2 separate regions of the Homo sapiens genome follow, and region 1 is reported to be linked to region 2. Evidence: microRNA targets listed by miRTarBase, many of them from high-throughput screens and not tested one by one. Region 2 holds a microRNA gene; the other region holds the end of a gene's coding sequence.
Evidence for each region. Region 2 holds the annotated microRNA hsa-miR-4426 (GAAGAUGGACGUACUUU, at 1,396-1,412, shown strand). A microRNA usually pairs through its seed, bases 2 to 8, with sites in the 3' UTR of a target mRNA and lowers its output. Matches are read on the target gene's strand: a 7mer-m8 pairs with bases 2 to 8, a 7mer-A1 pairs with bases 2 to 7 and ends in A, and an 8mer does both.

Region 1 (4,380 bases), not on the chromosome of region 2:
GTGAAACGGGTTTCCCCTTATCAAACCGTCAGATCTCATGAGACTTATTCACTACCACCAGAAGAGTATAGGAAAAACTACCCCTATGATTCAGTTATCTCCCACTGGGTCCCTCCCACAACACGTGGGAATTATGGGAGTACAATTCAAGATGAGATTTGGGTGGGGACACAGAGCCAGACCATATTAGCAGGGAATGGTGTAGAATCCTACGAAGTTTGAGAATTGCTACTTTAAAATGGATAAAATTTATAAAAAAATCAGCTGTGTTGGATTTCAGAAGCTATGCTGATCTGAATTTTTCTCTTGTTATTGATAAATTAATGGTTTTTCACTCTTACAGATCCTTCATGGATTTAAAAATCAAGTTGGCGATGAAAATTGGAGGCGTTTCTCTGACCAGTTTCCTCTTCCCTTAAAAGAGCGTCTTGCAGCTTTTTATGGTGTTTAATCTAATACACTTAAGCTGCAGTCCCAAAATTAGGGGTAAGTTATAAGAAGTTTGGAAATTTTCAGGATGAAGAAAATTTTGTTAGGGCTGTCATTTCAAACTACTAAATAGAATAAAAAGCTATTTGTTTTCTATAGAGGTTGAATAAAACATAGCCTCATATCATTCTATCTTGGGCTTTAAATTTAAAATTACTTAAGTGGGCCAGGTGTGGTGGCTCATGTCTGTAATCCCAGCACTTGGGGAGGCCAAGGTGGGCAGGTCATTTGAGGTCAGGAGTTTGAAACCAGCCTGGCCAACATGGTGAAAACCCATCTCTACTAAAAATACAAAAATTAGCCACGTGTGGTGGGACGTGCTTTTGTAGTCCCTGCTACTCAGGAGGCTGAGGTGGGAATATTGTTTGAACCTGGGAGATGGGGGTTGCAGTGAGCCAAGATCTTGCCAGTGCACTCCAGCCTAGGGGACAGAGCAAGACTCCATCTCAAATAAATAGAAAATAAAATTACTCAAGTGAAGGCTAAAGAAATTTTCTTAATAGAACCAACAAGCCCAGAAAAACGATTAGCTCCAGTTTGAATCGTAGGTATAAAGAAATCCACGTTGGTACACTGGTTGGATTTCTCAACATTGCTTCAACTATTCCTTTTTTCTTTCTTTTTTCCTGCAAGAAGACATCGGCACTCATAGTGATGGGGTAAAATTGATTTCATTTTGGAGCATGAATTTATAGTCTCTGCTGTAACAAGGACTTTTCATTTCACGTGCTTTGAAAGAAAACTCAGTTGGGTTTTGGCCCACTGTTTTTGTTTTTCACTGTATGTTTCACTGAGTACCTACCATGTGCCCATCACTTTTTTTTTTCTTTTTTTTTTTTTTTTTTTTTTTTTTTTTTTTTTTTTTGAGACAGAGACTCTTTCGCCCAGGCTGGAGTGCAGTGGCGCAATCTGAGTTCACTGTAATCTCCGCCTCTTGGGTTCAAGCAATTCTCCTGCCCGAGCCTCCCAAGTAGCTGGCATTACAGGCACATGCCACCATGCCTGGCTAATTTTTGTATTTTTAGTAGAGATGGGGTTTCACCATGTTGGCCGGGCTGGTCTCGAACTCCTGACCTTGTGATGCACCCACCTCGGCCTCCCAAAGTGCTGGGATTTACAGGCGTAAGCCACTGAGCCCAGTGCCTAGGACTATATTTTAAAATAAGCAATGAAAGATTCTGTTTTAATTTGGGATGGACTATATTCATTTGGACTCTTGCTCCTTGAGCTCTTCTGTACTTAAATGGGACTAGCAGTTCTCATCTCTGAGCTTCGGTTTTGTCATTGAGTTATGTTGAGGATTAAATACTATACTGTATGTGATGCCAGAACTTAGTATGTTGCCTGGCACACTAAGTTGACTCAGTAAAGGTTAGGAACTGGGCCAGTACAATAAATATCAGGGTTTTGACATTCATCTTTAGATTTTCAACATGAATTAAGACATATCTGACTGGAAGCCAGAAGATGTGCTGAATGAGCATGTACAGAAGATGTACACCAAGTTGAATTACACTTTAGATTGAATTGGAGGAGTTTTTTTGGCTTGCTTGCTTGCTTGTTTACTCCAAGCTAAAATTTAAATCTGGAAAGATTTCACCATCCAAGCTGTCTAACCTAGAAGGTAGTAGAAATGGACTCAAAGCTTCCAGAATGTGTCAGAGCCCTTCATATGTGTTGTCCTACTTCAGTCTTGAGTCCTCAAGAGCTGTTTTCCAAAATGGCTTTGGCATTTTGGAAAAGTGCTGGATTCACCTTATGTTAAATTATGAGAATGCAAAAGATGAGAATGACTTGTAGCTTCAAAGCTTCAATGAGCTACTAACAAGTCTTGAGCACTTTCAGATTTATTACCTCTGTGGTCTCATCACCAATCATGAATTAACTGTTCTAAGACAAGGTATGAAATAGTTCTCGGTTTTGTAATTAGAGCTAAAAGTAGATCAGTATCTTTTATTCCTGCCTTTTTGTACTCCTCTTCCTTTTCTTCAGAGGCAGGAGAAAAGGGATTGCTTATATTTCTACACAGATGGATTAACTGCCCTCTGTGAATTCACATGAACGTTCATAAATGGCCAAAACTTGGCATGATTGGGTAGTAGAGTTCTGTTTGTAAAAGGACCACTATCAGGTAACAGTTTAAATCTCCCAGTAATCTTACCTTATTTCTTAATATCCTTTTTATCATTAAAACTGTTTAGCATAGAAAAAAGTTCCTACCAGAAAAACCAAGTGACTGGAAGATAGTGGAAATGACCAAGTGAAATAGGATCAGAATGGGAACTAATTAGGAACATCAAGAAGGCAAGTGTAGGCAGGGTGTGATGGCCCACATCTATAATCCTAGCATTTTGGGAGGCTGAGGTGGGAGCATTGCTTGAGCCCAGGAGTTTGAGACCTGCCTGGGCAACATGATGAGATCTCCATCTCTATGAAAAAAATTAAAAAGAAAAAAATGAGCTGGGCATGGTGGTATGTACCTATGGTCCCAGCTACTCAGGAGACTGGGCAGGAGGATTGCTTGAGCCCAGGAGGTTGGGGCTTCAGTGAGCCATATTCACACCACTGCGTTCCAGCCTGGGTGACAGAGCAAGGTGCTATCTCCAAAATAAATAAATAAATGTTAAATTTGCTTTTTTCTCTCTCTCTTTTTTTATGTAGAATTTGTTTGTTGATACTTACTGAATGTAGTGACCCTGCTGTGGTAATGAACACTTCTAGTGCCTTCTAGGCTTAAAATACCAGACAACCCCAAATAACAAATGCTCTTTTGTGTTTTGATAGGTTGGATTTCTGTTTGCTTAATATTGGGAATACTGGGGGAAAAAAAGATGGTGTTTTCATTCTAAGGATTGTCCTAAAGAAAGTGCTACTTTATTTTTAAGAAAGTAAGGCCACTTGTTATATAAGAAATAACAAGTTCCCATTGGGTCCCATTTTGCAAAAGGGGATAAAGAATTAGACTGATAGCATCATACGAGGCATATTTCACTATACAAAGTGTTGTACACCTGTCTATACAACTCTCCTACCCAGCTTGACCTCACTTTTCATACCTGATGCAGCAAACAATTCAGTGCCATAGGAGAAGGAAGCAGCATGGTTATAAGTGACTAACACGATATTAGGCAATTTGTCCAAATTTCTCATTTTCTTTATAGGTAAAGATAGCATTCTTATTTGATTAATTTTTTGTTCCACTGGCTTTGAAAGACAAACGATTGTTAAAGATAAAATTGTTTTTGTTCTTTTTCTTATAGGTCCTTCAGTCTTGGAGACTATAAGGGAGCCTCTGCACCCAGGGAAAATGTTACCCTTTACAGGGGGGAAGGGTAAACCAGTAGGGAATACAGTACAATCCCAACCCTACTGGGAGGGGCGGGAGGGAGGTGTTGCCGTCACTGTATTAAGTCGATGTTGGGAAACGTTTTAACATCTGGAGCCTTTGTGGGTGGAAATATGTCTCCAGTTACAACTCCGCAGTGGATGTGAAGAAGCAAAAAAAAAAAAATCTATTCAGTCTACTCACAAAACAGTACATTGTGGAATATTATGGGGAATTGTACCAAAACAAGAACCATATAAATGATGCCTAGGGACAAGAAAGAGGAACAATTCTATAGCGCACAATAAAGGAAACCTAAGAATGGGAGTTACAAATAGTAAAGAAGCTTTTTTTTTTTTTTTAATTTAAAGTTTTTTTATGTAAGTTTTCCCACATGATGGGGCCTTGTTTTGCATGTTGATGAAGAACTACACAAAGAAAACTAATATAGTTAAAAGTCAGCTTGCCTTCCCGTAGTAGAAGCAGGTTCTTGGAAGTTACAATTTAAGGTACCCCAAAAAAGTTGGAAATAAAACAAAACAAACATAAACAATGAAGCACCCTGT
Region 2 (4,404 bases):
CATGGTGGTGACCACAGCAAGAGGCTCCTCTGCTTATGGAAAGGAGAGGAAAGAGTGGGAAGAACTTCATCTTATTTGGTAGAATAAAGAAGCAGGTAGATTTCTTAGGTTTTTGACTCTAGTCCTTGGCTTCTATATGGCATCTCTGGACCCACCTGAAGCTTGGGAGAACTCACCACCCTGAAGGGAAGGACATGAGCCTGGCTGACTTCACCACCTGCTGATTGTAGAGGTTTAGGGCCTTCAGCAAACATAGGCAGTAGCCAGGGAGTGGTTATGTCAGGCTTTAGGTGAGACACAGTGCTGTGCTGGCTTTAGGTATGACCCAGTACAGTCCCAGTGGTGGTAGCCACAGGGTTGCTTGTGTCATTTCAACCCCAGCTCCAGGTGGCTCATAACAGAGAGAGAGAGAGAGAGACCTTGTTTCTTCAGGAGAAAGCAAGGGATGGATGGGGACAAGAGTGTCTGCCTGGTAATCCAGAGAATTCTTCCTAACCCTATCCAAGACTGACAAAGTGGTACCTCTATGAGTCTGCAGGAACCATAGCATTACTGGACTTTGAGTACCCACTGATACAGATATGGCATAGATCACAACACCCAAGTCCTTTCAAATACCTGGAAAGCCTTCCCAAGAAGGATGGGTACAAACAGACCCAGACTGCGAAGACTACAATAAATGCCTAACCTTTCAGTAGTACCCAGACACTGAAGAGCATCCACAAGCATCAGTACCATCCAGGAAAACATGATGTCATCAAATGAAATAAATAAGGCACCAGGAACCAATCTTGGAGAAACAGAGATATGTGACCTTTCAAACAGAATTGAAAATAGCTGTTTTGAGGAAACTCAAAGAAATTCAAGATAACACAGAAAAGGGATTCAGAATTTTATCAGATACATTTAACGAAGGGATTGGAATAATTAAAAAGAATCAAGCAGAAATTCTGGAATTGAAAAATGCAAATGGCATACTAAAGAATGCATCAGAGTCTCCTAACAGCAGAATTGATGAAGCAGAAGAAAGAATTAGTAAGCTTGAAGACAGGCTATTTGAAAATACAGTCAGAGAAGACAAAAGAAAAAAAAAAAACAATGAAGTACACCTACAAGATCTAGAAAATAGACTCGAAAAATCAAATCTAAGAGTTATTGGCCTTAAAGAGGAGGTAGAGAAAGATATAGGAGTAGAAAGTTTATTCAGCTTTTCGATCCGCCATCTGCAGTGGAGCCGCCACCAAAATGCAGATTTTCGTGAAAACCCTTATGGGGAAGACCATCACCCTCGAGGTTGAACTCTCGGATACAATAGATAATGTAAAGGCCAAGATCCAGGATAAGGAAGGAATTCCTCCTGATCAGCAGAGACTGATCTTTGCTGGCAAGCAGTTGGAAGATGGACGTACTTTGTCTGACTACAATATTCAAAAGGAGTCTACTCTTCATCTTGTGTTGAGACTTCGTGGTGGTGCTAAGAAAAGGAAGAAGAAGTCTTACACCACTCCCAGGAAGAATAAGCACAAGAGAAAGAAGGTTAAGCTGGCTCTCCTGAAATATTATAAGGTGGATGAGAATGGCAAAATTAGTTGCCTTCATCGAGAGTGCCCTTCTGATGAATGTGGTGCTGGGGTGTTTATGGCAAGCCACTTTGACAGACATTATTGTGGCAAATGTTGTCTGACTTACTGTTTCAACAAACCAGAAGACAAGTAACTGTATGACTTAATAAAAGACATGAACTAAAAAAAAAAAAAAAAAAAGAAAGAAAGTTTATTCAAAGGGATAATAACAGAGAACTTCCCAAACATAGAGAAAGATATAAATATCCAAGTACAGGAAGGTTATAGAACACCAAGCAGATTTAACCCAAAGAAGACTAACTCAATGCATTTAATAATTAAACTCCCAAAGGTCAAAGATAAAGAAAATATCCTGAAAGCAGCAAGAAAAAATAAACAAATAACATAAAATGGAACTCAAATAATTCTGGCAGCAGACGTTTCAGTGGAAACCTTATGAGCCAGAAGAGTTGCATGAAAAATTTAAAGTGCTGAAGGAAAAAAACTTTTACTCTAAAATAATATATCCATTGAAAATATCCTTCAAATATGAAGGATAAATAAAGACTTTCCCAAACAAAAATTGAGGGATTTCGTCAACACTAGACCTGTTCTACAAAAAAAATGCTGAAGGAAGTTTTTCAATCAGAAGGAAAAAAATGTTAACAACCAATAAGAATCATCTGAAGGTACACAACTCACTGGTAATGGTACACAGAATATTATAACACTGTAATTGTGGTGTATAAACTAATCTTAAGTAGAAAGACTAAACAATGAACTGATCAAAAATAATAAATACAATAACTTTTCAAAACACAAACAGCACAATAAACTATAAATAGAAATAACAAAAAGTTAAAAGTGTGGGGACAAAGTCAAAATGTAGAGTTTTTATTAGTTTTCTTTGCATTTGTTTGTCTCTGCACTCAGTGTTAAGTTCTCATCAGTTTAAAGTAATGGATCACAAGATAGTATTTGCAAGCCTCATGGTAACCTCAAATAAAAAAAACATACAACAGATACACAAAAAATAGAAAGCAAAAAGTTAAATCATACCACAAGAGAAAATCACCTTCACTAAAAGGAAGATAGGAAGGAAAGAAAGAAGAAAGGGAAGACCACAAAACAACCAGAAAACAAATAACAAAATGGCAGGAGTAAGTCCTTACTTATCAATAATAATGTTGAATGTAAATGAACTAAATTCTCAAAAGACATAGAGTGACTGAATGAATTAAAAAAAAAAAACAAAAAAACTAAGACCCACTGATCTGTTGCCTACAAGAAACACACTTCACCTTCAAAGACACACATAGGCTGCAAATAAAGGGATGGAAATAGATATTCCATGCCAACAGAAACAAACACACACAAAAAAAGAGCAGGAGTAACTACACTTTATATCAGACAAAAGAGATTTCAAGACAAAAAACTGTAAGAGAGACAAAGAAAGTTATTATATAATGATAAACGGGTCAATTCAGCAAGAGGATATAACAATTGTAAATATATATATACCCAACACTGGAACACTCAGATAGATAAAGCAAATATTATCAGAGAAAGAGAGAGAGCCTCCAATACAATAACAGCTGGTGACTTCATCACCTCACTTTCAGCATTGGACAAATCTTCCAGACAGAAAATTAACAAAGAAATATTGAACTTAATTTGCACTACAGACCAAATGGGCTTAATTGATATTTACCAAATATTTCATCCATCAGCTGCAGAATACACATTCTTCTCTTCAGCACATGGGTCATTCTCAAGAGTAGGCCATATGTTAAGTCACAAAAATATCTTAAAGCATTCAAAAAATTTGAAATAATATCAAACCTCTTCTCTGCCCACAAATGGAATAAAACTACAAATCAATAACAAGAGAAATTTAGGAAACTACACAAACACACAGAAATTAAACAATATGCTCCTGAATGATCTGTGGGTCAATGAAGATATTAAGAAGGAAATTGAAAAATGTCTTGAAACAAATGATAATGGAAACGCAATATACTAAAACCTATAGGATACAGCAAAAGCAGTACTAAGAGAAAAATTTATGTTTATAAGCACCTACAGCAAAAAAAGAAGGAAAACGTCAAATACATAGCCTAACAATGCATCTTAAAGAACTACAAAAGCAAGATAAAACCAAAGACAAGATTAGTAGAAGAAAATAAATACTAAAGATCAGAGGAGAAACAAATGAAATTGATACAAAGAAAACAATACAAAAGATCAATGAAATGAAAAGTTGTTTTCATATAAGATAAACAAAATTGACAAACCTTTAGCCAGAATAAGAAAAAGAGATGACCCAAATGAATAACATCAGAGTTTAAAAAGAAGCCATTAAAACCAATAACACAGAAATCCAAAGGATTTCTGCCTACTATGAGCAACTATATACTAATAAGTTGAAAAATCTAGAAGAAATGTGTAATTTCCTAGACACATAAAACCTACCAGGATTGAAGCATGAATAAATCCCAAACCTGAACAGACCAATAACAAGAAACAAGATTGAAGCCATAATAAAAAGTCTCTCAGCAAAGAAAAGCCCAGGACCTGATGGCTTCTCTGCTAAACTCTACCAACCATTTAATCCTTTTCCCATTTGCCCAAAGAATACTCACTAGCAGCACCTGCAGCTAACAGTGTTTACCCTGAAATTTTGCCACGAAATATCTTGCTTTCATTATTATTTTTGCAACACTCTAGCATATCAACTTTGGAAAGAAAAAATGTCATTCTATTTATAGCATTCTGGTTTTAGTAGTGGTATTTCCATTTACAAAATAAAGTAATTCTTGACTGCTAAAAATGTCAAAACCTA

Region 1: the mRNA of TNPO1 is a reported target of hsa-miR-4426. The part of its 3' UTR that is shown has no 7-base or 8-base seed match.

What each region holds. Positions count from the first base shown.
Region 1 is chr5:72,904,960-72,909,339 of GRCh38, forward strand. It overlaps TNPO1 (transportin 1), which reads left to right. Exons shown (of 25, transcript NM_002270.4): 24 at 344-486; 25 at 3,750-4,380. The coding sequence ends at 451. Among named protein-coding and RNA genes, the nearest start is that of MIR4804, 29 kb to the left of the region's middle.
Region 2 is chr1:192,714,938-192,719,341 of GRCh38, forward strand. MIR4426 (microRNA 4426) reads left to right here and starts at 1,391; the gene lies at 1,391-1,453. It also overlaps the pseudogene RPS27AP5.